Linked DNA regions of Homo sapiens. The protein of the gene in region 1 interacts with the protein of each later gene in a pairwise test. Each region holds a gene or a part of one and is shown in the gene's direction. Other genes may lie near its edges.

The links. The genes of interacting proteins can lie anywhere in the genome.
Region 2: the proteins of MSX2 (region 1) and SOX5 interact in binary tests that used the Homo sapiens proteins (3 or more experiments, as listed by UniProt).

What each region holds. Positions count from the first base shown.
Region 1 is NC_000005.10:174,727,582-174,731,181, forward strand, and holds the end of MSX2 (homeobox protein MSX-2), read left to right. Parts: intron 1-1,577; coding exon 1,578-2,002; 3' UTR 2,003-3,315; downstream 3,316-3,600. UniProt on the Homo sapiens protein: Acts as a transcriptional regulator in bone development. Represses the ALPL promoter activity and antagonizes the stimulatory effect of DLX5 on ALPL expression during osteoblast differentiation. Probable morphogenetic role.
Region 2 is NC_000012.12:23,528,782-23,531,355, reverse strand, and holds the end of SOX5 (transcription factor SOX-5), read left to right. Parts: 3' UTR 1-1,852; downstream 1,853-2,574.

The sequences.
Region 1 (3,600 bases):
ACAGTGTTGTTAATTTGTAAATTAAGAAGCTGGCTCCCCGGCTGTCTAGTAACTTAGGGATTAGCAAATGCAAAAGTATAGACTTTTATGGTAGTTTCTTATCCTTCCCTTTCCCAGATTTCTGTTCTTTGGTTGGTTACAAAGCCTCTTATCTCTTTTTGATTCAGTAAAGTGATGGGTAATAATGCGACACTGGAACAAATCCATCTCTTGTTGGAAATGGAAGCTGGGTTGGGACTTGTGCTGTGTCACCCTCAAGTATGAAGTGTAAACTCTTTCTTGGGCCACCAAAGTAACTAAACAAGAAATGCAACATTCTCCCATGAATACATTAGAGTTAATACTGTGGCCACATTTGGAAAATTAGCATAGCTCGTAAAAGCCAAATGCAGAAAATTAATTGTTAAGTATTCTATCACCACAGCTCTATCCTCCTCCGCCCACCCACCCTTGAGGAAGACAAGCCCAAAGTTAGTTGATGCTATGGAATCACAAGGATGTCCCAGTCCGTGATTTGCTGTAATTGAATCCATTTTAAATGTGGAGTCTGGATGCTGTTGGCATACCTTTATTTTGCTTGTTTTTCCCCCTGACAAACAAATCATTTACACATTTGCCCGAAGCCATAGAATGGGTAGAGGGGATGACTAAGATGTCATCACGTGCTCTCAATTTGGAGGCAGCATGATTTCCCCTGACATTTACATTTATGGGCTAGCTAATTTTTCCCTTCGTCTTAGTAAAGTTTATATTACAGAAGCGCCCAGCCAAGAACCTTATCCCACATCCAGATCTGTAAAATGATGTTCAGATTTTATAATCTGTGGACTGGATGCAATGACAGCTTGTGACTGTTTATTGCGTGGGACTGCCCCCAAATTCAAAGATGCTATTAATTTACCACAGACCTTATCTGCACGATTATCCTTCATAAATATGCTGACGCAATCCACTTTTTCTGGTTCAGAGAGGAGACCAAGGGAAACAGCTAACCCGGTTGCTAAAACCTTTTTCATTTTCCTTCCCATATGTGATTGTCTCCATGTCCAAGGGAGGCTGGGCTAATCATGAACCTGGTCTCCCATTTTTAAAGAGAAGATAAATTATGCTCAGAAGAGATAGCGGTTCATTTCTCACCGACCACTTGATTCCCTTGTCTTACATTAAATGTTCTATTTCTGTTATCTCTAATGCTGTTTGTTTTCCATATAGAAGGTTCAGTTACACCATTACATTTCCAAAACTTTTCTTAAAAAACTCATTTTTAAAAAACGAAGCAACTTACCCATTTATATATGGTCCCCCTCCCCCCAAGAAACACACATAGTTTTGACAAAGGTACCTTTTTCAAAGATGAAACAAAGTATGTCTTTCCATACATAGATATGTGTGTGTGTGTGTGTGTGTGTGTGTGTATATGTATGTATATATAGATTTTTTTAAAGCTAAGTGCTTTCAGTTGAGAGGGGAGGCCCGAAAGGAAAAAACCTAGAGAGATGACGGGGGAGATGGGTTTTTTTTAGTATTATTTTAATGTAACTTTCTTTTGCTAATCCGCTCCTCTCTCTGTTCTCTAGGACATATGAGCCCTACCACCTGCACCCTGAGGAAACACAAGACCAATCGGAAGCCGCGCACGCCCTTTACCACATCCCAGCTCCTCGCCCTGGAGCGCAAGTTCCGTCAGAAACAGTACCTCTCCATTGCAGAGCGTGCAGAGTTCTCCAGCTCTCTGAACCTCACAGAGACCCAGGTCAAAATCTGGTTCCAGAACCGAAGGGCCAAGGCGAAAAGACTGCAGGAGGCAGAACTGGAAAAGCTGAAAATGGCTGCAAAACCTATGCTGCCCTCCAGCTTCAGTCTCCCTTTCCCCATCAGCTCGCCCCTGCAGGCAGCGTCCATATATGGAGCATCCTACCCGTTCCATAGACCTGTGCTTCCCATCCCGCCTGTGGGACTCTATGCCACGCCAGTGGGATATGGCATGTACCACCTGTCCTAAGGAAGACCAGATCAATAGACTCCATGATGGATGCTTGTTTCAAAGGGTTTCCTCTCCCTCTCCACGAAGGCAGTACCAGCCAGTACTCCTGCTCTGCTAACCCTGCGTGCACCACCCTAAGCGGCTAGGCTGACAGGGCCACACGACATAGCTGAAATTTGTTCTGTAGGCGGAGGCACCAAGCCCTGTTTTCTTGGTGTAATCTTCCAGATGCCCCCTTTTCCTTTCACAAAGATTGGCTCTGATGGTTTTTATGTATAAATATATATATATAATAAAATATAATACATTTTTATACAGCAGACGTAAAAATTCAAATTATTTTAAAAGGCAAAATTTATATACATATGTGCTTTTTTTCTATATCTCACCTTCCCAAAAGACACTGTGTAAGTCCATTTGTTGTATTTTCTTAAAGAGGGAGACAAATTATTTGCAAAATGTGCTAAAGTCAATGATTTTTACGGGATTATTGACTTCTGCTTATGGAAAACAAAGAAACAGACACAATGCACACAGAAAATATTAGATATGGAGAGATTATTCAAAGTGAAGGGGACACATCATATTTCTGCATTTTACTTGCATTAAAAGAAACCTCTTTATATACTACAGTTGTTCCTATCTCTCCCCCGCCCCCCACCGCCCCACCACACACATATTTTTAAAGTTTTTCCTTTTTTAAGAATATTTTTGTAAGACCAATACCTGGGATGAGAAGAATCCTGAGACTGCCTGGAGGTGAGGTAGAAAATTAGAAATACTTCCTAATTCTTCTCAAGGCTGTTGGTAACTTTATTTCAGATAATTGGAGAGTAAAATGTTAAAACCTGTTGAGAGGAATTGATGGTTTCTGAGAAATACTAGGTACATTCATCCTCACAGATTGCAAAGGTGATTTGGGTGGGGGTTTAGTAATTTTCTGCTTAAAAAATGAGTATCTTGTAACCATTACCTATATGCTAAATATTCTTGAACAATTAGTAGATCCAGAAAGAAAAAAAAATATGCTTTCTCTGTGTGTGTACCTGTTGTATGTCCTAAACTTATTAGAAAATTTTATATACTTTTTTACATGTTGGGGGGCAGAAGGTAAAGCCATGTTTTGACTTGGTGAAAATGGGATTGTCAAACAGCCCATTAAGTTCCCTGGTATTTCACCTTCCTGTCCATCTGTCCCCTCCCTCCGGTATACCTTTATCCCTTTGAAAGGGTGCTTGTACAATTTGATATATTTTATTGAAGAGTTATCTCTTATTCTGAATTAAATTAAGCATTTGTTTTATTGCAGTAAAGTTTGTCCAAACTCACAATTATTTTAAGAGGTGTTCTCTGTTCTTAGCTGGGCTTAGCTCGAAAGTGCTACCCACATGAGGGGGAAGCTGGTCTTTTTTAATATTTTAATGTAAGTCAACCAAGAGTTGTGGCCAGATTCAGCCATGTTGGGGTGATTGGTGGTGGTGGGGAGTGAACTGAAACTACTGAAATACTTTGAAATGTTTCCTCTGGCAGCTTGTTACTTATGGAAAAGAGGTGGAATTGCTGCGAGGAGTTTTTCAGAAAAAGTACAGTGAAAGATAAGCTTTAAATAAGTGGTG
Region 2 (2,574 bases), on another chromosome or scaffold:
ATATTTTGTTTTATTTGAAGGGGAAAACAAAATTGTTAATGGTGACTTTTAACTGCTGAAATTCAAAATTTGATTTTAGTTAGGTTTATGTCCGAGACTAAACTGTGCATGAACCGAAACAAAAAGCAAGTTCATACCGCTGCATTCTGTTCTCTTGTTCTGACGGTTAATTCACTGGACATCAAATTTTCTTTGCCCTAGTTTTCCCCAAAAGAAAACAAAAGCAAAAATAGTTATATTAATGTTGAAAGTGCTTTGAAGTCACTTGATAAAAGGTGCTATGAATAGCAACTTACTGTGTTACTACATTGCCTTTTTGGCATTGGTTGATTTATAATTTTGGTAAAGGATCCTAAAACCCTGTATTCTTTTTCTGTGCCCCATAATGACCAAAAAAGATAAAGAAAATGAGAGTAAGATCAAAAGATCAAACTAAAACATAAACAGTCTCCTTCCTGTCTGCTTTCTTACCTATCTGTTCACACTTTATCTCTTTCCCTTTCTCTCTCTCTCTCACATGCGCGCGCGCGCGCGCGCACACACACACACACACACACTTGCCCCAACACTGAGAAATAATCTTGCCAGAATTCTGGTTTTTATAGTTGTTGTAGTCCGTTTCTCTAAAAATAGTCCTGTTTTCATATGAATCTAAGAGAACATTACCGGAGAAAATAAAGTTACTCATTTATAGTTACTAATAATAAGTTAGTGATTAACTTACCACAATTGGATAAAATATAAAACTATTCTTCAGCACATTTATACCTAAATTAGTGAAGTCCATTTGTGAAGTTCATTTGGCATCTGCAGTTAAGAGTTAACCATGTATAAAATCCCTCCCAAAGAACATAATCATCGTTAGAACCAAATCCTCTTATAAAGAACAAATATAAAAAAGTTTTCTGTGGTGAAGCTATTTTATAGATTTGATTTCCGGAGTAGAATTTTACCTTAATTCACTTAAAGAAAATTAACCATTTTTTGGTCCAACTTCAGATATTTTCTTAATCCAGAAGCTGTGACTGTTCCCAGAAGAAACCTCTTATATCACATTTAAAACATAAAAAATAATTACACTTTCACTCATTCTAATGGGTAAATTGTTGAATTGTAATAAACAACTGTATATTTACAAACAGGTTTATAAGGTATTTGTCTATCAAATTAATAATAAAATAAAACTTACGGGGTCTGCAAGGAAAACTATGAAGGCCACTTAAAGTGGTTCAGGTATCCCTTTGTCTTGTAGGGCATAGCTGTTGGTTTAGCCAGGCTTTTACAGTATTTAATTTTAAAGTATCCTATAACTATCAACTTCCCAGGTTGAAGACGATGTGTTGAGTTTCCTACTGATTGATTGATTCCTGTCCTCCCCAGTGTTTCCGTCACTGGTTCACTAAAACAGTATTTATATAGCTCCACTGGCTCTAAAGCTCTTAGTCCTTCTAATATTTTGGATTTTACAAGTAAAAATGGAAAAAAAATAGAAAAGAGACAATCAAATGCCTGGAGCTTAAAACAAAGTATGTGCAACCTACCATCTCACTTGAAATTTAATAAAATAATAAGTAATTATGTAAATATAACATAGAGTTATAGATTTATATTTTGTTCATAACACATAGTGTAATATAAGTTGTATATTTTCATGTTTTTGGTTTTATGTTATCATTCATGCCACAATAAAAATAAAACAGGAGTTTATGTGCTCTTAAAAAAAAGATGTGGGTTGCCACCAACCTGTTTTTCGTTTTTGTTTTTTGTTTATTTTATTTTATTTTTTTGCATTCTCCTTTTTCAGTATTACTGCCATGCAAGGCACCAATAAAAACAGCAAATGTGTTCTTTACTTATTATACTGTGTTTCTTTTCACAATTATTGTTATGAGGGTGTAATTAGTTTTATTATGAAAAGAACAAAAGTATGGAAATTTAATTTTGTTTTTAATATAAATAATCCCTCTTATTGAAGTTGACTTTAAGAACTAAAGGTTTAATTTTTAGCTGTGGACATTCCCAGAAAGACAGTCAGGACTTGATATAATGCATTTCACTCAGACAGATCTAGCTTCACCATACTGTCAAAAGATACTGTTCTTATATGTAATTGATTCAACACAATTGAAAACCCAACAGTCTAAAGCACCTTTAATATTGTTGTTTTCCCTGGCTGGACACTATCCTTGGGTGGGGGATGGGGGGTTTCTATGCTTTAGAATTGTGCTTTATCCTTTCGTTTGTATAGAAGATTTATAAATTTCAGATCATGAAATTACTAAGAACTATGAATAATTTTCACCTCGCTGGTATCTCATTTTGAATAATGGATATTTCTGAATTGTTTAACATTAGCCTCTCAGTTCTACCTTAAACTTTTTTAGTGAATGTTAAAAACAAGAAGTCTCCTTTCCTTTCAATGGCCATTTTTGCTTGTCTCTTCCACCATAATATGTTTTTCTACCTTGATAGTTCTATATGTAATAGTTTCATTTAAGGGTGTTTGCTGGTTGGTTGGTTGGTTGGTTGGTTGGTTGGGTGGGTGGGTTTTCTAAATAGGTATCAAGACAATGG